Linked DNA regions of Homo sapiens: regions 2 and 3 are each linked to region 1. The links come from fine-mapping of genetic effects on gene expression. A gene starts in region 1. Each other region holds a variant in brackets. All regions are shown on one strand. Distances are between the middles of the regions.

Evidence for each region. PIP is the estimated chance that this variant, and not a neighbour inherited with it, causes the effect.
Region 2: its variant is fine-mapped to the expression of ERGIC2 in macrophages (Nedelec 2016, PIP 0.95).
Region 3: its variant is fine-mapped to the expression of ERGIC2 in whole blood (INTERVAL, PIP above 0.99).

What each region holds. Positions count from the first base shown.
Region 1 is chr12:29,377,583-29,385,769 of GRCh38, reverse strand. It overlaps ERGIC2 (ERGIC and golgi 2), which reads left to right and starts at 4,598. Exons shown (of 14, transcript NM_016570.3): 1 at 4,598-4,655. RefSeq lists an enhancer at 4,866-5,035.
Region 2 is chr12:29,275,757-29,283,943 of GRCh38, reverse strand. The region is part of intron 2 of FAR2 (fatty acyl-CoA reductase 2); the gene reads right to left. FAR2-AS1 (FAR2 antisense RNA 1) reads left to right here. Exons shown (of 7, transcript NR_103860.1): 6 at 1,584-1,780; 7 at 2,402-3,529. Among named protein-coding and RNA genes, the nearest start is that of FAR2-AS1, 38 kb to the left of the region's middle. The variant T/AT (reference allele first, on the strand shown) is at 4,016.
Region 3 is chr12:29,297,133-29,305,319 of GRCh38, reverse strand. FAR2 (fatty acyl-CoA reductase 2) reads right to left here. Exons shown (of 12, transcript NM_001271783.2): 4 at 8,120-8,187. All of the region lies in intron 3 of FAR2-AS1 (FAR2 antisense RNA 1), which reads left to right. Among named protein-coding and RNA genes, the nearest start is that of FAR2-AS1, 17 kb to the left of the region's middle. The variant T/AACT (reference allele first, on the strand shown) is at 4,691.

The DNA.
Region 1 (8,187 bases):
GCCCTGTCAAAACAGACCACTTGGCTCTACTAATCAGCAGGATGTAGGTGGGGACTTATAAGAGAATAAAAGCAGGCTGCCTGAGCCAGCAGTGGCAACCTGCTCGGGTCCCCTTCCACACTGTGGAAGCTTTGTTCTTTCGCTCTTTGCAATAAATCTTGCTACTGCTCACTCTTTGGGTCCACACTGCCTTTAAGAGCTGTAACACTCACCGCAAAGGTCTGCAGCTTCACTCCCGAGCCAGCGAGACCATGAACCCACCAGAAGGAAGAAACTCCGAACACATCTGAACATCAGAAGGAACAAACTCCGGACATGCCGCCTTTAAGAACTGTAACAGTCACGGCGAGGGTCCGCGGCTTCATTCTTGACGTCAGTGAGACCAAGAACCCACCAATTCCAGACACATTTTGGCGACCCAGATGGGACCTTCGCCAATCACCAAGCAGTAAGACCATCGCCTATTGCTGAGCGGTGAGACAATCACCTATTGCCAAGCAGTGAGTACCATCGGACCCCTTTAGCTTGCTATTCTGTCCTATCTTTCCTTAGAATTTGGGGGCTAAATACCGGGCACCTGTTGGCCAGTTAAAAGCGACTAGCGTGGCCACCGGACTAAAGACACGGGTGTCAGGTTTTCTGGGAAAGGGCTCTATAACAACCCCCGACTCTTCGGAGTTGGGACCATTGTTTTCCCTAGAACCAGCTTCTGCTTTTCCAGTACTTCTGGGCTGAGCCGAGGGTCGACAGAGAGGAAAGCCATGCAGCTCTGGGGTCCCGACAACAAGTTGGTTGACCCTGCGGCCATGAGCAGAACTCTCAAAAGCATGTCGCCCAAGCGAGACTCGCCCATCTATCCTATCTATCCTGACCCTTGCCCCCTGGGTCCTAATGCCTGTCAGACAAACTTCCTCTTGCCTCTCTTCTCTGAGGTTAGTCCCGCTTCTAAAAATTGCTACCGTCTCTGGTGCTTTTCTAGTTTCTCCTATAAGAATGATTTCTAGTATAAACTCCAGGACTCTGTTACCTTCTTTAGGCACCCGGGCTCACCAATCAGAAAGACATAATTTTTGCCCAAAGCCCCATCGTAGTGGGGACTACCTGGAATTTTAGGATCCCTCCTCAGACTAACAGGCCTAACAAAAGCTATTCCTGAAGCTAGGATATGGGGAGCCTCAGAAATTATATCCTTCCTATTCATATAAGTGAGGACAAAAGGTGTCACTCTTCCAAACCTGGAGATCCCTTCCCTCCCTCAGGGTATGGCCCTCCACTTCATTTTTGGGGCATAACATCTTTATAGGACAGGGGTAAAGTCCCAGTACTAACAGGAGAATGCTTAGGACTCTAACAGCTTTTCGAGAATGCGTCGGTAAGGGCCACTAAATCGATTTTTCTCAGTTGGTCCCCCTTGTGGCCTAGGAGGACAGGCAAGGGTGCAGGTTTTCGAGAATGCGTCGGTAAGGACCGCTAAATCTGACTTTCCTTGGTCCTCCATGTGGTCTGGGAGGAAAACTAGTGTTTCTGCTGCTGCGTTGGTGAGCGCAACTATTCCGATCAGCAGGGTCCAGGGACTGTTGCGGGTTCTTGGGCAGGGGTTGTTTCTGCTGCTGTGTTGGTGAGCGCAACTATTCTGATCAGCAGGGTCCAGGGACCGTTGTAGGTTCTTGGGCAGGGGGAGAAACAAAATAAACCAAAACGCGGCAGTTTTGTCTTTCAGATGGGAAACACTCAGGCATCAACAGGCTCACCCTTGAAATGCATCCTAAGCCATTGGGACCAATTTGACCCACAAACCCTGAAAAAGAGGCGGCTCATTTTTTTCTGCACTACGGCTTGGCCCCAATATTCTCTCTCTGATGGGGAAAAATGGCCACCTGAGGGAAGTACAAATTACAATACTATCCTGCAGCTTGATCTTTTCTGTAAGAGGGAAGGCAAATGGAGTGAAATACCTCATGTCCAAGCTTTATTTTCATTGAGGGAGAATACACAACTATGCAAAGCTTACAATTTATATCCCACAGGAGGATCTCTCAGCTTATCCCCATATCCTAGCCTCCCTATAGCTCCCCTTCCTATTAATGATAATCCTCCTCTAATCTCCCCTGGCCAGAAGGAAACAAGCAAGGAAATCTCCAAAGGACCACAAAAAACCCCGGGCTATTGGTTATGTCCCCTTCAAGCTATAGCGGGAGGGGTATTTGGCCCAACCCGGGTACATGTCCCCTTCTCCCTCTCTGATTTAAAGCAGATCAAGGCAGACCTGGGGAAGTTTTCAGATGATCCTGATAGGTACACAGATGTCCTACAGGGTCTAGGCAAACCTTTGACCTCACTTGGAGAGATGTCATGCTACTGTTAGATCAAACCCTGGCGTTTAATGAAAAGAATGCGGCTTTAGCTGCAGCCCAAGAGTTTGGAGATACCTGGTATCTTAGTCAAGTAAATGACAGAATGACAGCCGAAGAAAGGGACAAATTCCCGACTGGTCAGCAAGCCATCCCCAGTATGGATCCCCACTGGGACCTTGACTCAGATCATGGGGACTGAAGTCATAAACATCTGTTGACCTGTGTTCTAGAAGGACTAAGGAGAATTAGAAAAAAGCCCATGAATTATTCAATCGAACTAGAGAAAGAAAAAAATGGCACAAAAACACCTTTTGATCATCTTTACTAAATACAGGTTGTTATGGAACAATTATTAATCTCAGTCTAAAACCTATCTTATGCGGGTAATACATAATGGACTTTTTAAAGCAAATTGTTTTTCAGACATAACGCCACTGATAACACAAGATTAAGTATCTATCTCTTTTTAAAGATGATCCTGATAGGTACATAGATGTCCTACAGGGTCTAGGGCAAACCTTTGACCTCGCTTGCAGAGATGTCGTGCTACTGTTAGATCAAACCCTGGCCTTTAATGAAAAGAATGCGGCTTTAGCTGCAGCCCGAGAGTTTCAATCTTCAGGGGAAATTAAGTTCCCTCTTCACTGGGTAGATTAGAAAATGGTGAGTTGTTTTCTAAATAAGAAGGATCAAATTAGTCAGTTTTGCTACACTGGGAAATCCAACTCTCATGGGATAGTTGTTACCCTGAAAGTAGGTTATCCAGGAGATGAGGGATCAGATGTAACTAAGTGAACAACAGCCAGCCTCCATCCAAGCAAGAGCCCATATTCACAAAGAAGGAAGAGTTGCTGATGCCTTTACGGCAAAGATTAAAAAAAGGCATTTTAGATGTATATTAATTTACTTAATCCTCGTAACAACTCTGAGATATTATCATGCCCATTTTACAGATGAGCAAATGGAGACACAAAGAGATGAAATAATGTGGTCAAGGTTACATGCTAGTAAGTTGCTGATCTGGAATTCTAACCCAGGAAGTCCTGTCTCCAGTGTCTATGATTTCACCCACTACACTATACTTCTTAAGCATGTCAAGAAAGTGAGAACTTTAAATTGATTTAATTAGACTAACTCTGAAAGTCTGAAAATAAAATTGATTCATTGGAAACTTTTCATCAGTCCTTATTTTGGGGGATATTCAATTTAGTGAAATTTAGTATTTCAGTAAAGGTTAATTCACTACATAAAACAATGTGATTTTTTTCCTTTGAGGCACAGTTTAGTATTGTGATCAAGATTTCCCTGACTCTCCCAGCGGTCTGAATTTGGGTAAATCACTTCACTACCCCTTGACTCAAATTCCGTATTTATAAAACAGGTAAATACTGGTATTATCTTCTAAGAGTGTTGTGAGGATACGCAGATTTTTTAAAAAAGCAGTTAAAGCCTTTAAACAGTAATTATAAGCAGTTGTCATAATTATGCCGTTGTTAGACTTCTAGGTCAATGAATCAGAAAATTTAAATCTCAATGTTTGATTATAAAATCTGGTAACAGATGGGTGAAAAGGAACCTGGAATGGGTTTACTCTCCAGGAGTTCACATTTAACTTTTCTTTCCGAAGTTCCGTCTATTAACTCCTGTTCTATGAAGTGGTAGAAAAAGATGAGGTATTAATTTTCTTTCTTAACAAATATTTGAAGGCATAGTTGGTGTTGGCGAAGGGAGATGAGGAAGACATATGTGCTTTCTTATGATATTAAAACCTGGAAGACAATAAAAACGCTGATCAAATAATAAAAAGCGTTACCTATGGCGGAAAAGGAAGCTCAAATGTTCTTGTCAGGGGAAAACGACACAAAAACTGAAAGAGGGAAACAAAACAATTGCACAGGTGATATGCATTAGGGTTGTTAGGGATAATTTCTGCGCCCAAGGCTCTTATTAGTAATGAAATACGGTGTGAGGAGCTGAGATTCGTTCTGCAGTCTCAGTGTTAGTCGGAAAGTAACCCCTCCCTTCCCATAGAAACAGAACCGGACTGGCGGCGCGATTACACCTAAAACAAGTTGCAACCTCATTTCCCTGTAGGCACGCCTCTTTTATCTTAACCACGCCTCTTCATTCCCTAAGCACGTCGTAAGCAAAGGGAATATCGCGAGATCTGTACATTGTCTCTTTTCTGACGTTTTCAGCTGTGATAGTCGCTTTTGTTCTCGCGATATTTCCGGGTACGCGGGAGCCCCGGCGACCCGGGCTTCTGTGAAACATGGCGGTAGGCTGGGACCATAACACAAGGTAAAATACTGAAACACCGCTGGGTGCTGTTCCCTCGGTTGTTCCAGGGCTGTTTAGGGCGTAAATGCAATTGAGGGAACTGGGAGCCTGTCATGGGCTTGGCTTCCTGTCTTCATTGATCTCTAGAGAGCCGGTCGGACGGAGAAGCCGCTCCACCTCCCACGGGGGCGTTACTGGCAGGACCCTAGGCAACGATGCTACTGGGAGCTTCCCTTTGCCAGGTCCGGGTGCTTGTGTGCTATCCTGCAACTCGAAGGAGTTCAGGTGCTTCCTCGATCGCACCTGATTCTGACCCTTTGCTTGTCACAGTGCCCGGTTCCCAGGTGGTTTCTCCAGTCCGCAGGCGAGTAGGATCCCAATCGGTCGAGTCCCAGTCCTCCCGGATGTCAGACTCCCTACCCCCATTCAGACAAATGCCACATTCGTGGCAGCACGTTGCCCTCTGTCTCTTTAAGAGTCTTGGCCTTGCCCGGAAGGAGTTTCGCACAGTGCTTCGGAAAATGAGAAGGGGGCGGGGGAGGGCGAGATGCTGAGAGACAGGTTCGACTGTCACTACTTTTCCTCGGCGCAGGAAACCTTCCGAAGGCAACGTGTCAACTCGTGGTGGAGAATAGCCTTGTTTATCTGTAGTATATAGAGTTGACAGGTCATTGTTTGAGAAAACACGTTTAAATAACTTTTATATTTTAGTGCCCCCGAGACTTAAAGACAAAGTGGCATAATAGCTGTTAAAATGTTGCCAGACTGGTTTTCAGAAGCAATGAAAGTTACAGTTAAAAACAGGATTTATTCATTTGAAGTTGTAATTCAGTATTTCAGTTAATTGCCTAGCCTGATACATTGGACTCCAGTATACAGCAATTATAAAGAATGAGCCTGGCTTGTTCACTGAAAAAAGACATGGTTATTTACCTAATTTGTTTGTTGATATCTTTAAGTTGTTGTAATTATGCCAGTTCTAGTGGAAAACATGAGGAAAAAAATTCTGATTTTTTGGGAGGGTGGGGGTTGGCGGTGCAGGGATGGATAGAGAGAGGAGGATTTTTTTTTTTTTTTTAAATGATGGTGAACTTTAGTATACAGTTGCGTGTTATAATGGCTTCCTGGTACAAATCATAAAAATATATCAAGTTTGAAAGATCTCTCAAAGGAAATCAGGCCTAGTCTGGAACAACGAGAGTTAGGGAAACAACAACAACCACCCACACATTTTCTTTCTTTGGGGATTGATGATTTAAGTGAAAGAAATGGCTATTTTTTTTTTCTTTACCAGAAGTTACTTTTAGGCAGTCAGTGCCTGCTAAAAATCCTATTTAATAGTTTCCCAATATTTATTGTAATTCTGCCTCTTAATGTCATAGTGGTCAAATTATTTAACCTCTCTGTGCCTTAGTTCCTTCATCGGCCAAATGAAATAATGATACTTAACTCATAGGAAGGTTGTGAGGATTGAATGTGTTGAAACATACAAAGCATTTAGAACAATACCTGGCACACAGTAAACACTCAATGCATGTTAGCTCTTGTTATTTTTTATTTTCATTTTCTAACATCTGTAGTTACAAATGTTGCCTTGTTACTTAGTCAAAATGTAGACTGAAGAAGATATTGTTTAAAATAATATCTTTCTGAACTCCAGATTGATTAAACACTCTGATTGGTGTGGTTAATGTGTCCTTAAACTCCCATTATCCAGTTGCTTGTTTTCTTAAATTATTATCCTCTTTTAATGACTAAAGCATAAGTTCTTCCTTTCTATTGCTCTATATAGTCACGTTGTAGTGTGGCTCAGATCTACCCTCTGAGTGCCTTATTAACCCCCATACTCTTTGCTTTTGAGAACATTCATTCTATTGTAAATATATTTCATGTGTCCCTGACCTTTTCCTTAATACTTTTTAACTTTAATTTTCTATACTTTTATTGAGAGCTACTATAGTCTAGTTGTTCTTTGAGGAGGATTATACTTGTCCTTGCTTCACATTGCTACTAGGCACTTTTAAGGTTATTCTGTTATCACTCTATAGTCTCTCTTAACTTTTAGTCTTATCAGTTTATGCCATCCTAACTTCAGGAGATTGTCAACTAACCTCACATACTCTCCCACTTTCCTCAAAGACTTTAACAACTAAATCTCAAATATCCTACAAATCTTTGCTTTTTTTCAGAGAATTAGAAATAGATATTACATGCCTCATTTTTATCTTAACACTGTGAGGTAGCCATTATGTCCTGCTGCCCATCTTTTAAAATAAAATTATGGAGAGAGGATTCTAAGAAGTTGAGTATCTTTCCACACTTGTCACACAACTAGTAAGTGCCTAGGTAATCAGGGTTTTCTGATTATAAACTCACATTTATATTGTCTTCCTTGGCTTCCAAGTAAACCTTTCTGTCACTTAGAATGTCATTAGGTTTATTTGAATTATGTTGGGGTAAACAAACATAATATTTAACTCTGTTGTAAAAGGTCCAAATTTTAAGGTAAAAATAAGTACAATTGAGGGGGTTGGGGGGTTGCTATCTAGTATTTGCAAAGTAAAGCTAAGCTATCTTATAAAATGTTTTTTATTGTAAAGTATTCTAATGCAATATAATCAAGTAATTTAAAATTACAGATAGGTTGTAGTTTTACCTTTTATTTCTGATATTCAGCGATGGCCTGAATTATATTGCCTGTATTAGTTGCCTGGGGCTGCTGTAACAACTTACTATAAGCTGGGAGGCTTAAAACAAAAGAAATTTATTCTCTCACAGTTCTGGAGGCTAGAAGTCTGAAATCAAGGTGTCAGCAAGACTTGAAGACTCTAGGAAAGAATCCTTCTTTGACTCTTCCTGGCTTCTGGGCAATCCTTGCTATGCCTGGGTTTGTAGACACATCACTGTAGTCTCTGCCTTTGTTTTCACATGGCATTTTCCCTTGTGTTTCTCTGTGTCTTCACATGGCCTTCTTAAAAGGACACCAGTCTCAGATTTTGGAGCACCCTGATCCAGTATGATCTCATCTTAATTAGTTATATCTGAAAGACTCAAATATTTCCAAATAAGGCCCATTCATAGATACCAGAGGTTGAGACTTCAACATATCTTGTTCAACGTATCAAATTGTGAGTTGACACAGTTCAGACTGCAACTTGGCCATATGTATTAACCAATTAAATTTTTCTCATATTGCCAAATATGTATTAAAAATAGAAGTTAACTCAAAACTTGGGTAGCAGGAAATAACTTTTGTCTTCATTTTTCTTTGGAGAATTAAACTTAACTGAGCAGACTATAAAAAGTTCATGAATTCTGTATTTTAATTTTGGTAAAGCATTTAATAGTCTCATTATATTCAGATGGATACAATGATGAAATATAGGCTGTGTGACTTTACTTACAGTGAGTGTTGATAATGTCTGTGTTCCAACCTGAAAGGGAGTCTCTTATGTCTTAGGAAGTTTTTCAAAATACAGTCACCCCTCCATATCTGTGGATTCTGCATCTGTGGACTCAACCAGTTGCAGATTGAAAATATTCAAGAAGGAAA
Region 2 (8,187 bases), 100 kb after region 1:
CATTATCTGGTATAGTGGGGAAAAGCCATCCATGTCTTTTTAAGCCAAGACATATTTAAGACAATAATAAAGCTAAAATATCAATTGCACTATCTACATTTGCTTTTGACACAATGAAAAGCTGATTGGTTCATAATTACATGAGCATATTTTCCATAAGTAAGAGATGAAACAGCAGCTCGGAAACCCTTGGTCTGTGGTGAGCATGTTCACATTTCAACACACGAAATTTGGTGTGCGAAATTTACCTAGCAGCTCCTCAGATTTTATGAAAAACTAGATGATAATTTTTTAAAAAGCAATGTTGAATACTTAGAATCATATTTCTAATAAAAATAAGTCAAACTATTTAATTTTGATAAACAGTTTCAAAACTAAAAATGAACTGAACTTATACTTGATGACATAATTTTGTAAATTCATGATTGATTTCTGCCTTATTCTGATTTATTTACTACTTTACAAGATAGGTGTTTCTTTTCTTCCACTGTAAAAGTGTAATGTGTTCATCGTATTTGGAAAATGTGGAAGATAGAAGATTACTGTTCTTATTTTTTCACTATTATAAAGGGTAATTTTTCCTCACCATAGAAGTAGCATAATCATAATTCTAATTTGAAAATTTGAAAATGCAAAAAAATTGTAATCCAAGATCACAACAACATTTAGGGCTAATAGTTGAGATTATACTGAATATAGTTTTGCATCTGTTTTTGCACCAATATATTACAAGGCTTTTTGTGTCATTTACTATTTTATAAAACATGATTCTTAATGCCTGGATACTTGTCTAACACTTGTATATATTGTTTATTTAGTCATTCCTCTATTGTGGAACATTTAAATTGGATCCAAGTTTACTATAAGTAATACTACAATAAAAATATCTATACATTATTTGTGGTGTCTCTGGCTGTTGTCTTGGAGTGACACCTTAATTATCTTTGTGAGAAAGTCCTCAAGAATCCTGCCATTAATTCATATACTTTCCCCCCACTGGTATGTCCCTTTAAGTGCTCTGAAAATACTTAAGAAACTTAGTAATAAGAAAGAAAATTAATCTTCTTTTTCGATTCTTCACTTCTAGTTCTCTGTGGCCAATGGATTTTTTAAAATCCCTTTGTCTAGAGCATCTCCCATTTAATAGTTTCTCTTTGACAGCAGGGAAACTGGAAGTCAGATGTGATATCTATGCATACCATAAAAGGAAAAGAAGGAAGCAGATGTCTGAATTTTGATACATAGAACAGATGTCCTTTTGATCACATTTCCTGGGGGATGTAGTTGTAATCAAAGGCCAACTGGTAACATTTTTGGTTACTATGTTTTAAAAAAAAATTTCCAAGCCTCACATAGCTGACATGGTTTATTACCTTCAGGAACACTGTAGTACTTGCAGTGAGTTAGAATTCATTCATTATTATGTGTGACTGGAGAGATGTATTGCTTAAAAGCTATACCAGGCCCTACTTAGGAATAAGTTACAACTGCATTAAATCACTCTGTTTGTGTCAAACTCGTTAAAGTTAAATGGCAGAATCTAGAGGGGGACTTGATTAACATGAGATAATAAATATTTGCAGAATCTGATGCCTACCAGAAGAAACTCTGACCCAGACAGGATCATTGCATAAGAGGTTGGTTTTAGAAGTAGAGTTGGCTGAAATTAAAGTCTCGAGTGACATGAAGACAGTGTTAAAGATAAATCCAAACTCTTCTTTATTGCTTGACACTTTTCCAATCAGCATTGACTTCATTCCTGGCAAGCTGATGTAACATGGTGAGTTCTACCTCATTTTATACTTTATTTGGTTAGGATATGGGGGAGGGGGTAAAGGTGCAGGTTGGTTATTTAAAATGTGCAGTCACCTCCACCAACTTTCCAATATAGGGCTATTACTTAAGGGAATACACCCATAAAACTTTGATTTTCTAGTAATTCTGCTTTTGTGCATTCCTAATTTAAGACTCAGTGAGGGTGAAAGAGTTTTAGATTTGGCAAACACTGCACTATTTTCTTGAATTTTTTGGATTTGCTAAAACCAATAACAAATTTATTACCCAATTTTTTTTTCCTTTAACTTTTCCGTGTGTTGCCACTGAATCCTCCACATCTGGTTCAGTGCTTGACACTTAGTAGGCACTCAGCCAACACTTATTGAATGAACAAGTTTAATGCATTCCAGTTTTTTTTTTTTTTTAGGTGATGTTGTGCCTAATGTATACACCTTCTTTCTTTCACTTCTTCATTAATCCTTTTGTTCATGTCTTTTACTTATGCCAAGCTGTCACATTGTGTGCATGAACCAAACGATTTATTTTTTCTCCCACAGCCCCAGAGTCCGCAAATGACAGACCTTAAACCTAAAACACCCATTAGTTTCCGTCTTTACTCTTGCAGAATGAGTTATGAAGCCAAAGATCGCAAGAAGAGCACACTTCTTAACAGCCACTTCAGAGGTGACAGCCAGGGAATAAGAAATAAGGAAGAACTTTCCAGAGGATGGAGCCACCACAAATAATAATGGAAAAGAAGGTTCCTCCCAGAGATTAGATTTAGAGGCTATTTAAGGAATTTCCCCACTCCCAGTGTAGGAAGCTTCTCAATACTCGCTAATCAGGATTTCCTTATGGTTATATTCTAGGGACTGCTGCTTGCCTGCCTGTCTTCTCTTTTTTGAATAGAAGGTGTCTTTGTTTGTTTGATTTTATTTTTTCTTCAACTTCGCTGTTCTACAATGACAAGAGATAGAACAGAGACATTTTCTACCTCAACATTGGGAGGCAGAAAATTCACCTTTTTATCCAAGAATACCAAACCAGAAGCTGAAATATCTGGATCTGATAGAGAGGATAGTCTATTCCCCCTTGGACTTTGGACTGGATGCAATAATGGTATGAGACCCTGGGGTAGGAATGAGTGTCTTCTATGTGTGGGAAAGAGAGGAAAGCAGATATTTGGCGACCTAAAAAGAAGGCCATGGCAGAACCTCATTAGTTGTTCAACAATCCTATTTTCCTTTTCTCCTGGACACACAGCTATGCATTTTCCAGCCATCCTTGTGGTTAGATGCCCAGTGACAGTTCTGAGAATGGAATATGGACAGATGTGATAGGCACTTCTGGGCCTGGGCCACAAAAACCTTCCACATGATGTCCAGTGCCTCTTTTACCCCACTGACAGTTTTTTATTGTCATCCAGAGAGACCTTGGATGGTTTAGAAGCCATGTGTAGAAGATGGCAACCTTCCCTTAGCATGGATCCTTGAATGACTGTGGAGTGCAATGCCTTCTACCAATTACACCTACTGTGTTTGAGAATCAAATTTCATTTGTATTAAGCTACTGATTTGGGGGGTTTATCTCCTTCAGCACCCACATTAGTACAACTCATGCAGAATGGAGAGTTAATGTGAACACATATGGCACAGACTGGTGAAACCTAGGACTTTAAGATGATAGATGAATTTCTGATTATACTTTCCTTTCCCGCAAAAAGTTTTTTTCAAATTAAATGTTGTAATATAAATGTGAATTCTTAAATATCTTTCTAATGAAATGATGACTAACTATAGAAAAGAGAATGCAGGAATATATACATCCTTGATAAGAGTGTGAAACTGTTACAGGCAATCTAGAGGGTCTTGCCTAGGGATAACGAACAAAATAACATACCTGGGTAAAAGAAATGAGAGGTTACTGATAAAAAACTAACATTTAGCCGGGAGTAGTGGCTCATGCCTGTAATCCCAATACTTTGGGAGGCCGAGGCAGGCAGATCGCCTGAGGTCAGGAGTTTGAGACAAGCCTGGCCAACATGGTGAAACCCCATCTCTATCAGAAATACAAAAATTAGCTAGGCATGGTGGCGGGTGCCTGTAATCCCAGCTACTTGGGAGGCTGAGGCAGGAGAATCACTTGAACCCGGGTGGTGGAGGTTGCAGTGAGCAGAGATTGTGCCACTCCACTCCAGCCTGGGTGACAGAGCTAGACTTCATCTCAAAAAAAAAAAAAA[T/AT]TATATTGCACAATATAAAACATTATTTTATACTTAGGATCACATTTGATCTTTGCAAATCCATATGAAATAGCTATTATTATCAGATACAGTTTATGAATAATAAAAACAAGACTCATATGGGTTAGGTAACTAGGCCATGGTCTCTCTACCAAGCTCTATCTCTCTGATTGAGGAGAGAGTATCTAGAGCATCAGTGTTCTTTTTACTGCCTTATGCTACCTCCCAGTACAGGTATAACAACTAAACCTACAAGTAACCTGCAATTGAGGGTTTAGACTTTTAGCATCTTTAACCATCCAAAACATAGCTGTGGGACCAAAAAGCAAAAAACAGTTTACAAAAGCCCATATTTATTGCACCAAGAAAAAGCCATGTCTGTGAAATATTGCTTAGAATTTGTGTACTAAACTCAGCATAATGAATTAACAAACTCAGTGACCTCATTTTCTCCTAGATTACAATAAATGGAAGACTTAAAATGATGAGAAAAATAAACACAGAAAACCTCAATTAACAGGGTAGAGGATGACCTATTGAAAGATTGGGCATTCATGTGTGGGAGGTAAAGGCAAGTCCTGTGAGTGGTAGGCAGTCCGAGGCAAGTGTTCTCTCTTTTTGTTGTTTGATTCTAAATTTATGACAACTGAAGAAAGGGCCTTGGCCTGGTCTGGATCAACTTGGTATGGAGCCCATGAGAAATGAAAGATGATTCATAAACATACCTAATTCATCCCAGGCAACAGCAGAAATGACCATGAAAAATGAGCCATCTGAGAATTCTCAACGATTCTTGGAGAATGTCATTAATTACATTTTTATTACAGGGCAGGGATGCCCAAGCTGACATATGGGTTACAAAGGCAAAGTAGAATTTCCCTCTATGGGTTTTGTTAATGTAAAATATAAATTAATAAGCTTTTTGCTTTTACTAATATGAAACATACCCATCAATTAGTTGTCTTCAATTCAGAAAGAACTAAACTAGAGTTCGATAGTATCTTAAATCCAAAAAATAAAAATAAAAACCCAACCAGCAGCCATTTGCTGAATTCCTGAGTGCTTAGGAGTCTCCATTTCTAGTCTAGCAAATGTCTTCCAGTTGCAATTTTAAACATTTTTCCCAGATCTTTCAAGAAACCTGTAATAGTATCAAGTCCAGCACACAAAGCTAGCTTTCTGTAAGCAATCAGTCTCATCTACCCACCTTTACTTTATACAGCCTCCTAAATTCAACCTTAGAATAAAAAGTACTTTTTTGTTGTTAAAAGTCTGTTCTCTAGCCAGGTGTGGTGGCTCATGCCTGTAGTCCCAGCACTTTGGGAGGCTGAGACCAGAAGATTGCTTGAAACCAGGAGTTTGAGATCAGCCTGTACAATGTAGTGAGACCACCATGTCTTAAAAAAAAAAAAATTAAAAACAATAGCTGGGCATGGTGTCACATATTTGTGGTCCCAGCTACTTGGGAGGCTGAGGTGGGTGGATCACGTGAGCCCGGGAGGTTGAGGCTGCAGTGAACAATGATCATGCAGTGCCCTCCAGCCTTAGTGATAAGAGTGAGACCATGTCTCAGAAATTTAAAAAAAGTCTATCCTCTGCCTCTAAGGGACTTTGTTGTTATAAAACTACTGAAAATTTGTATAAATATATCTTATTAAATATAAACATATTTTATTAAAACTATTGAAAATATATATAAACCAGGTGTGGTGGCTCACACTTGTAATCCTAGCACTTTGGGAGACTGAGGCAGGAGGACTGTTTGAGGCCACAAGTTCAAGACCAGCCTAAGCAACATAGTGAGATCCCATCTGTACAAAAATTTGAAAATTAGCCAGCTTTGGCAGTGTGTGCCTGTATTCCCAGCAACTCAGGAGGTTGAGGCAAGAGAATCCTTTGAACCCAGGAGTTTAAGGTTACAGTGAGCTGATTGTGAACTGTACTCCAACCTGGGCAACAGAGTGAGACCCTATCTCAAAAAAAAAAAAAAAAAAAAGAAAGAAAATATGTACAAATGAATGTTTTAAATTGAAACAATTACTATAGCACCAAAATGCTCATTCGATGAGATGGAAATTTCTTCTTAAATGTCTATTTCTCATTTTGCAGCAAAGGCATGATTATACTTCTATAAATTTTTGCCTTACATAGTCAGATAGAAGCATGCAAAGTAGGCAGAGCCTAGGCATCTACCTGAAAGAAATGCCCTCCTGCATTTTCTTGAACATATTAACTCTTCCTGAGCTCCAGTGGCACTATCTCTGGAGTCCTTTTCCGGCAGATAATTTTAAAGCAGGCGTCACTTGTTATTTTCTCTCTCAAATTGCCGTGTTCTTTGTCTTCACAGTACTTTTGAAAATACTTAAATATACATGTGTTTCTTATGAAACTCGTTTGCCTCACTGGACTTTAAGATCTGTGAGGCCAATTCCATGCCTGTTTTATTTTCTACTTTATTGCCCCTGTTCCCCAGGCACAAAGCAATAAGTGCCTGACATACATTTGGCTCTCAATAAATACTTGTCATATTTGTGTGCTTGTTCAACTTTTCTCACTCTTTTTGTGTGTAGGTGTGTACTTTCTTGTTATTTCTGGACACTTACGGATTTCCTTATTTTGCCTCAAGGTCAGCTATGCATTAAAACTATTTTATGGCCAGGCGTGATGGCTCATGCCTGTAATCCCAGCACTTTGGGAGGCTGAGGTGGGTGGATCACGAGGTCAGGAGTTCAAGACCAGCCTGGCCACGATGGTGAAACCCCGTCTCTACTAAAACTACAAAAATTAGCCAGGCGCGGTGGCAGATGCCTGTAATCCCAGCTACTCGGGAGGCTGAGGCAGGAGAATCGCTTGAACCCAGGTGGCAGAGGTTGCAGTGAGCTGAGATAGAGCCACTGCACTCTAGCAGCTGGGTGACAGAGTGAGACTCCGTCTCAAAATAAATAAATATTTTATAAAAAACGTATTTTATCTATTTTTTTTTTTGAGACAGAGTTTCACTCTGTTGCCCAGGCTGGAGTGCAGTGGCACATACACACACATATATATATATAATCTAGAGATTTTACATATATATATATATAAAATCTAGAGGTTTCTTTCACCTTTCAAACATAGCTCATCCCCATAACTTAAAAAATATAAAAAAATACAATTTTATCTGTCTTGTCTTTATTTTGAATTTTCAATTTCAAAGGGAATACAAGCAATAATATCTTGAATCTCATAGATGGCCAGTAACTACTTCTTGCATAATTCCTTATTTGCACAGAGCTTTATCCACAGCCAATCAGCGATAGCATTCTTATATTCTGAAGCATACACAATTTTGTAGCAAAAACTTTTCAGTTTTGGGATACGCAGCAATAAAATCAAGCACATATTTTTTTCCATGGAAAATCTCTTTACAGGTATCAGATTCCATATAGTGACAAGAAAGTAGATATTTGCATAGCTAATGGCTTGTGCATTAATAATCAGGTGATAGAATCTGTTCTTGTTACCCACAAAATGGCCATGTAGACATGGTTTGTGATCTACCGTAGATGTGTTTTTCAACTATATTATACACATCAGATTCCCTTCCTCCCACAACTCTTTGAGGGAAAAATTTATGGGAAAAAAAACACTTCTTTTTTTGGCATAACTTAGTATACAGCCTAACTTAGTAAAAAGTGAGGCCCTAGGAAATAGTGGTAAAAGCCATACCTTAAATCCAGAAAGGCTTGAGGGCAAGAGAGAAAGACGCAGAGACTCCCTGGGTAAGCAAGGTATTATTACAGCATTTTACAGATAAAGAAACCAAGGCTCAGCAAAGTATATATCTAGTCCACTATCACACAACTCACAATTGGTCGTATGGAGATTCACACCCAGGTCTGTCTGCCTCTGAAGCCCAGGCTGTTAAGTACCATCTGATCACAACAGATAGTTCTCAGGTGATCTTGAATGCTGCTGATATTGGGACCACACTTTGAGAACCACTGTTCATAAAAGTCAACAGCTGACAGTAAATAGCCCAATAGTGAAAACAGGTGCTGAGATTTGCAAGGCAGTTTCACAGATAAGTTACATAGAGTATAATCACGATTTCCAGAACAAAAGCAATGTTGCCGTGTTATAAAAAACACTGCATTGAAAGAAGCAGTAGGTAAAGATTGGGTTGACCACAA
Region 3 (8,187 bases), 80 kb after region 1:
CAAAAAAAATGTAAAAAAATTAATGGGGCATGGTGGTGTGCACCTGCAGTTCCAGCTACTCAGGAGGCTGAGGCAGGAGGATTGCTTGAGCTTGGGAGTTGGAGGCTCCAATGAGCCATAATTGTGCCACCATACTCCAGCTTGGGTGACAGAGACCCTGTCTCAAAAAAATAAAATAAATAAAAATAAAAATAAACAAATAAAACAAATAAAAATAAAATATCACTTATAATACAGCCAAACAGACCATCTGAAGCTCATCCAGCCACTTCCTAGGTTCAGAGGAGATTAGTGTAATAAACATGCACATCCACTGGTTGGGCCAAGCCATTCTTAGGACTTAAACACTCAATTCAGGGTTGCTGCTGCTGTTTGTTCTCAATTTGTTTTTAAAACAGTAAATAAGTTAGCATAGATAAAAAACACATATAAACCAAAATACATGTCTGAAATTAATCTAAATGTCCTCCAGTATACTCAAGAAGATGTTTTGAACCCATGGGTCTCAAATTCTAAACTTGAATTGCTTCAGAAGAAGCATAAAGTCATTGAAAATTTCAGAAAGCAGTATGTATATGTCTATGTGTGTTCACATATACACACATACACAATTTCTTCTAAATATTATCAATTTTGGTTTCAAACTTATTGAATCAACATGATTATATCATTAATGGTTTATTTATGTATTTACTGAATGAATTACCAAGAGGCATATGTATTTCCCCTCCCCTGATACCCTCAATTTTCTTATGCAACAAGTGGGCAAGCCTAGTAGTTTATCAGGAAATCTGTTAGAGAGTAAGTAGTGGACACACTGTCTTATGATAATGTTTGCTCTCTCTTTCTCCAGGGTAGATTATGTCATTCTCTTGATTGTTGTAGTTATCAAGTTGTATTTGCTTATGTGTCTGTCTCCCCACTGGACAGACAGTGAGTCCAGAAGATCAGGGATTATGATTTTTATCACTGTGTCTAATCACCTTTCTGCCCCCAGGAGCCAGCTGCCTTATTCAGTAAATGCATGTTCTTCCACATGATAATCTTGATTGGCCAATTTCTATACTATGTAAGGTTTTGGGAAGCAGAGATGGACAATGATGAGAGAAAGTGGATGAACTCAAAAGAAGACGAGGTTGTAGGGAGAATGTGGGAAAGGAAGGAAGGGGTTATCTTTTAGAGCAGGAAGCAAAATTGGAAGTAAAGTGTCCAGTGGCAATGGTGAAAAGTGTTGACCAACCTCGTTTTGGTGAAGGTGGCTTCAAGGTCAACTTAAACTTTCCAGTGGGAAGCAGGGTATTTCTGAGCCTAATGCTTATGGAGAATTGGCCTCTGTATTTCCCTCAAGACTTTTACGGAGCACCTAGCCAGGCTCAAACATGAGCCAGATGCTGAATACCCTGCCAATGGCCTGCCATTTGAAAATTACTCAGTTTGGTTAAGAAACAATTTAATCTTATTCTGGTTTGTAATTTAAAGCCTGCTAATATCAAAGTACACAGAATTCTCATTTTTACTTAGCTACATAGATGTCATTTTGAAGCTGTGCCATCCTGAAATTAAAAGCACAAGTGCTAGAATCAGCTTTCACCGTTCCCCTAGAAGAGGTCAGCTTTTTTAGTGTTAACAATGTGTTCTATAGCACGAAGGCAAAAAAGACTACTTTCTAACATCTGACCTCCTTTCATATCTCCCAGAGGACTGTGATAAGGGCCACTGCTGCTGGCTGTGGGGGCCTCCATTCCCCTGCCTCTCACACCTGCACCCTCAGTGCACACGCCACCTTTCCTTTTTCACATGGCAGCTTAGCTGTGTCTTCTGGTGACTGTGTAGCCTCAGAAGCATGGTTTTTAGTAGGTACAGATCTACTAGGAACTTTCCATTAAAGCTTCTAAGAACTGAAAGACAACAGGAGGCAAGGAGAGCAGGAGAAAGAGGGAGCATAGAGATAAAGAAGATAAATGATCCTCATTTCAAATGAAGACTGCTCAGTGAAAAACCTCCTTAAGGTAGTCTTTCCCAAACTTGCCTGCTCATAAATATGAATTACACAGGGCCCCTGGGAAAAATCCAGATTCCTGGGTACCATTTTAGAATCACTAAATACATCTGCAGAGTTAAGAGTCTGATAATCTGTATTTTCAACATGCCCTGGAAATTCCAACAGTCGGGCAAATCAGGGAATCACTAATTTAAAAGAAGTCCACTCCATAAACTTAAGTCATTGAGATTTGAATATATCAGGATTAGCTCTCAAAAACGCATTGCTTCATGGAGTAAAATTTCAACAGAATTGAATTTTAAAAGAATTAAATCCCTGGTACTAGAAATGCAAAACATGACAAGTATGCATGTTCTAATCTGGAGTTAATTTGATAGGTGCAACCCCATATGCAAAGCAGTAGCCATGTCCTATTGTTTTTTTCTTTCCCAAAACATGGAGATGTTTTTTATACCTGTTGCCTCACCCTCATTCTAGTCTTCCATACTACTCCTCTCTGGTAATGGGTCTCGCTTCCTCCGTCTACTCCCTATGCTAATCCACTGCCTCCCCCGGCCCCTGGCTATATTAATATTCCTGAAGCCCACTTTCATCAGTATTTTTCCATGATGAAAACAAATGAGCAAACAACCCCAAATTACACACAAAAATGCATGCGCACACATGGCCCTCCTTCAATGGATCTCTACTGCATAGAGAATTAAATACAATTCCTCTGCATGGTATGCAAAATCTCCACAGTATGGCCCATCCTCCCCTCCAGCTTGATCTCTAACTTCTTCCCTACACGTAACACATGCGCTGCCAAGATGGACTACTGGCTGTGTCCCAAACACGCCTGGGTTTCCCAGCTCCAGCTGCCCTGCCAGGCACGTGTGCACATCTCACCTATCCACACTCTATCCACTCTTCCAAGTCTTCTCATATGCCTCCCTCCACTCCACCAGACTTAATATGACCTGTTTCCCCACCACCACACGTGTATAATTCTGCCGTGTTCTATTTGTCTTGGATACGAGCTCTTTGGAACATAGTCTATATCTTAAGAAAGCACCTTTTTTTTTTTTTTTTTTTTTTTTTTCCTTTGAGATGGAGTCTCGCTCTGTCGCCCAGGCTGGAGGGCAGTGGCACAATCTCTCGGCTCACTTCAAGCTCTGCCTCCCGGGTTCACGCCATTCTCCTGCCTCAGCCTCCCGAGTAGCTGGGAGTACAGGCGCCCACCACCACGCCCGGCTAATTTTTTGTATTTTTAGTAGAGACGGGGTTTCACCGCGTTAGCCAGGATGGTCTCGATCTGACCTCGTAATCCGCCCAACCCAGCCTCCCAAAGTGCTGGGATTACAGGCTTGAGCCACTGCACGCAGCGAGAAAGCACCTTTTAATCTCTACCACTGCCAAGTACGTGAGTAGACTGGAAAGACCATGGGCTTCAGAATCAAGTGGCCATGGATAAAAATTGTGTCTGAGAGACTTTCAAGGAGTTACTTAGCCATTTTGAGCTTTTTGCTCCGTGATTAGTATAGCAGTGATAATAATATCAACCTTACAATATTACGTTATGGAATTAAATGTCTGTGGAAGTGTCTTCCTCACAGTAATTGCTCAATAATGATTCATGTCCTCCCTTCCCTTCTTAATTCAGATTTATTTACATATGCTCAATAGAGCAATAAATATTTGTGATTCCATTTTTCTAGTACCTGCTTCCAGTTATTTCAGGTTTTTATACAGGCACAAAAGCCCTTTTCTTCTACACTGCTTTCCCTAAGAGGAGTTACCTTGACCTAAAAAATAAGGAAAGCACCAACCATAAAACCCTGCCTTTCTTGGTCAGTTATGTGCATTTTAAAAAATAAACATTCTACATAAGCTGTTATTCTGGAAAACTGGAATTTCACTGGCAATCCCTGATCCATTTATGCACATAAATTTCCAAAGGTAAATATACCAACTAGGCAGAAGCTGGCAATATGAAGGTAGAGCTGAGTCAGAATGGGAACCGGTGGCTGGGATGAGGGGCAGAAGACAACTACAGATATAAGAGCCAGGAAAATGAGTCGCTAAACACTGATTAACGGCCAGGCTTGTCATACTCATTAAAAGCATTAACTCCTGATTTAAGTTATTTTTAAAATATATTTCTGCTAATGTGCTAAAGTTTTTGTACTAACTTCATCTTTCTGGAATATTTCAGGGCCAAGGTAATGCTAAAAGTTTTTAGATAGGGGCTAAAGAAAGGGAGCTCAGGCCTGACAGTCTCAGCATACAGGATGGATAGAAAATGGGGGGAGCTGAATGAGCAGAGACTTTAGGCCTGCAAAGGTTGGGACCAGGATGTAAGCATGGGGTTCAAGTTCACAGTCCCATTATTAACAACACTGAGCAGTACCACTGCTGCCCAAGCAAACAGGAAAGGTCCGGGCCAAAAATGCATATCCTTCTTTATTTCCCAGAACTGGAATTCCCATTCAACTGATTTTCTGGAAAAATAAAGTTTCATTTTACGTCGTCATGGTGATTTTCTTGAGAATATAATGCCAAGAGTACAGCTTCAAGATCATCTTGTTGTCTAACGCCTGGTTCCTTATAAATAAATAAATAAGAACTGCTGAATTACTAAGAGCAATGGCAGCCACTAGACCCCTTGAAGTTACTGTTAACAACAACAACAACAACAACAACAACAAC[T/AACT]TTCCCCCAGGCATTTCTCTGTTGCACTGAAAGAAAGGAAAACTCCCAGGGGAAATAGAAACCTAAAAACCTTGGAAAATAATTCCATTTTAACACAGACCAATTACTAAATAGAGAATTACTCAAAGAAACAAAGTATTTTCCTAAAACAAAGAAACTAAACCTGGATTTAGGTGAATTGATATTTATTCAGAATGATTTTTAATGTTGTTATTCTAAAACTTCCAAAAATTCCATCTGGTATAGGAGTCGTTGAAATAGTCGTAGATCATGGTATAGTTGGTGAGGGGTTGCTGGGTTTTATTTAAAGTGCTATTCAAAAGTTAACATACAGGTTTCATTCAAAGTTTAAGAAGAAAAAAATGAACAACCAGAAACAAGGGTAAGATGTGGGGATATGGATAGATATTTTATACATAAGACTTCTGCATCCCAAAATATCAGCTTGTTACAGAATTCTGTCATCTATTCTTGCTTCAGTCAAAACAAACAAACAAAAACAGTCAAAACAGTATGAACAATAATCGTCTATGCCACCAAAAGCTTTTCATTCATTCAGTGAGCATTGAGTCCCTAGCTGGAGATGCAAAGAGGAGCAAGAAATATTCTCTTCTGTTGAGAAGCTCATTGTCTAATGTAGAATGTAGATAAGCAACCAGACATTCAGAATGACCTGTGTTACAAGCAATAATACAGCTGAACACTGGGTACTATGGGAGCACTTGGGAAGGGTGCCTAAGCCAGAGAGCTTCGCTGGGGAGCCTTGATATCTGAGTAAGAATTAACCAGGTGAAGCAGAAGGGGAACTAAGCTCTAGGGACAAACAGAGTTTCGAGTGCAAAGGCAGGCAGAGTATGAGGAGGGAAGGCCTTACTTCTTTGTGACTGCAGCATGAAAGTAAGGGGAGGACTGAGAGAGATGAGGCTGGATAGGTGGTCCTGGATGTCCTAATTAATTCTGAATTAGCAAATAATAAGTATGACTTTTCCCTGTTTTTTAAAAAAACTTAGTTCCTTAATTGCACCCAGAATTTATCTGTTGAGATAAAATAATTTCATTCCTAGTTCTAATTAGTTGCTTAAATAATTGTTATCCTTGGAGAGCAGTAAATGACAGATGGAGGTTAAAAATTTTGTACAAATGTCAGTTACAGTTTGTTCATAAATCATGTAGCAATTACCTGCCTTGTCTGGTTGACATATACTTGAGGGAGGATGGAAAGTGCTGAATGCCTGAAGATAAATCAGCTCTTCCTCTGGGAGGTGAGTTTATTCTTCTTTGAAACCTAGGGGTATTTAGTGTCTGGATATAGTTTGGGAGGAAGTGGTATGGAGTACCTAGAGAAGCCCTTCACTATGGGTGAACTCTTACTTCTTTTCTTTTCTTTTTCTTTCTTTTTTTTTTTTTTTTTTTTTTGAGACAAAGTTTTGCTCTTGTTGACCAGGCTGGGGTGCAATGGTGCAATCTCAGCTCACTGCAACCTCCACCTCCTGGATTCAAGCAATTCTACTGCCTCAGCCTCCCAAGTAGCTGAGATTACAGGCATGTGCCACCACACCTAGCTAATTTTTTGTATTTAGTAGAGACAGGGTTTCACCATGTTGGTCAGGCTGGTCTCGAACTCCTGACCTCGGGTGATCCACCCACCTCGGCCTCCCAAAGTGCTGGGATTACAGGCATAAGCCAACACACCTGGCCTCTTACTTCTTTTCTCTGATGAACTCTCAGGCTCTTTTGCTACCTCAAATTGCACTATGACCTGTCAGGTGTTAGAGAGATCAGCAGTGGAGAAAGTCCCAGGAAACAATCTGGAATCAAAAGGGGTCTGCCCCTCTCCTGGACATATCAAATATGAAAACATCACATTTACCAAGAGACAACACCATAAGAGGGTAACTGACAGAAACCAATTCCATCCTGAAAATGCTCTGAGGCTTTAAACATACTTTATTGTCTAGACTTTGGGCCTCAGAATACACCTGCTTTTTCTCCCACTATCCTGATGAACTCTGCACTCTAAAATTTTTCTCTGTACCAATTTAGCAAACCTCCATTTATTAGCAACTTTAACCTCCAGATCCTTTAGATGACTTTCATTCTTCTTTGTCCTGGATATTTTTACATGACAGACAAAAATATCTATTCTCAGAGCTGGAGGAGATAAAAATGTTTGCCCTGAAGGTAATGAACTCTTGATTTAGCTAAAACTTTTTAAAGAGTATATATTAAATATAAATACAGTATTATATAAAATTATAATGTGACAAATTCATTGTGAAATAGTCCATTTTTCTGCTATAATACTTTTTATATAGTTTTTTACAAAAAAAAAAAACAAGGTAAACTTAGTAAAATGGAGCAGAAGAATAAAGAAGCAGAAAACAAACTTATTCTAAGACCTGAGCTGTGTTTTAAGATGAAAGTGGTTTCTGCTCATTGGCAAGAAGAGAAAAATCCTAGACATTATTTCTCTTGCATCCTAGGACAGTAAAGAAAGTGTGTCTCAGCCAAATAAGTCAAGAGACTGTCACCTTCTGCCAGATCTTGGAGCAATTCTTATTCTTCATTAGTTCTTTTTTTTTTTTTTTTTTTTGAGACGGAGTTTCACTCTTGTTGCCCAGGCTGGAGTGCAACGGCACAATCTCGGCTCATTGCAACCTCTGCCTCCCAGGTTCAAGCGATTCTCCCCAGGTTCAAGTGATTCTCCTGCCTCAGCCTCCCAAGTACCTGGGATTACAGGCGCCTGCCACCACATCCAGCTAATTTTTGTATTTTAGGCTGGTCTTGAACTCTTGGACTCAGGTGATCCACCCGCCTCAGCCTCCCAAAGTGCTGGGATTACAGGCGTGAGCCACCACCCCCAGCCTCTAGTTCTTTTTTATGAATTATTTGATTAAGTGCTGTTAAACACTCCCTAGCACTGCAATAAGTGTTTTATATAACTTTTTTCAACCTCACAACTATAAAATGGGCCCATTTTACAAATGAAGGACTTGGGGCTCAGAGAGGGCAAGGAATTTGCTCAGTCACACAGGTAGTTACTGGTGGAGCTATGCCAAACTCACGTCAGTCTGAATCAGACATTTTTCTTCTGAACTTTTATACTATACATTATACTTGCTTTATCCAGTGACAATGCTAAGTTCATTAAGAAGTGAGAAACAACTTCTATGTATAGTATTCCCAAGTACCTCATGCAATCCTACGCAATTCCACAAAATGTTTAAGAATTTTCTATCCCCCTTCTCTTTTAGCAGTATATTCCCCACCAGAACTAGCAGGGACAAGGTAGCTAAGGCTAGCACCGTTTCAAAACATTTTGCTTCAAAAGTGTTTGACTTCATCATCTCATTAATAGCTACAAAGAATCAAAGAGAACAAAGGAACTTATTCTACCCGCCCCTTGATCCTTTTATTAGACCAACTTACTCAAGGGAATCAATGATTTTTTTTGGCTCCACAGGGCACGGATAGATAACTTCATCGATGTGCTTCAG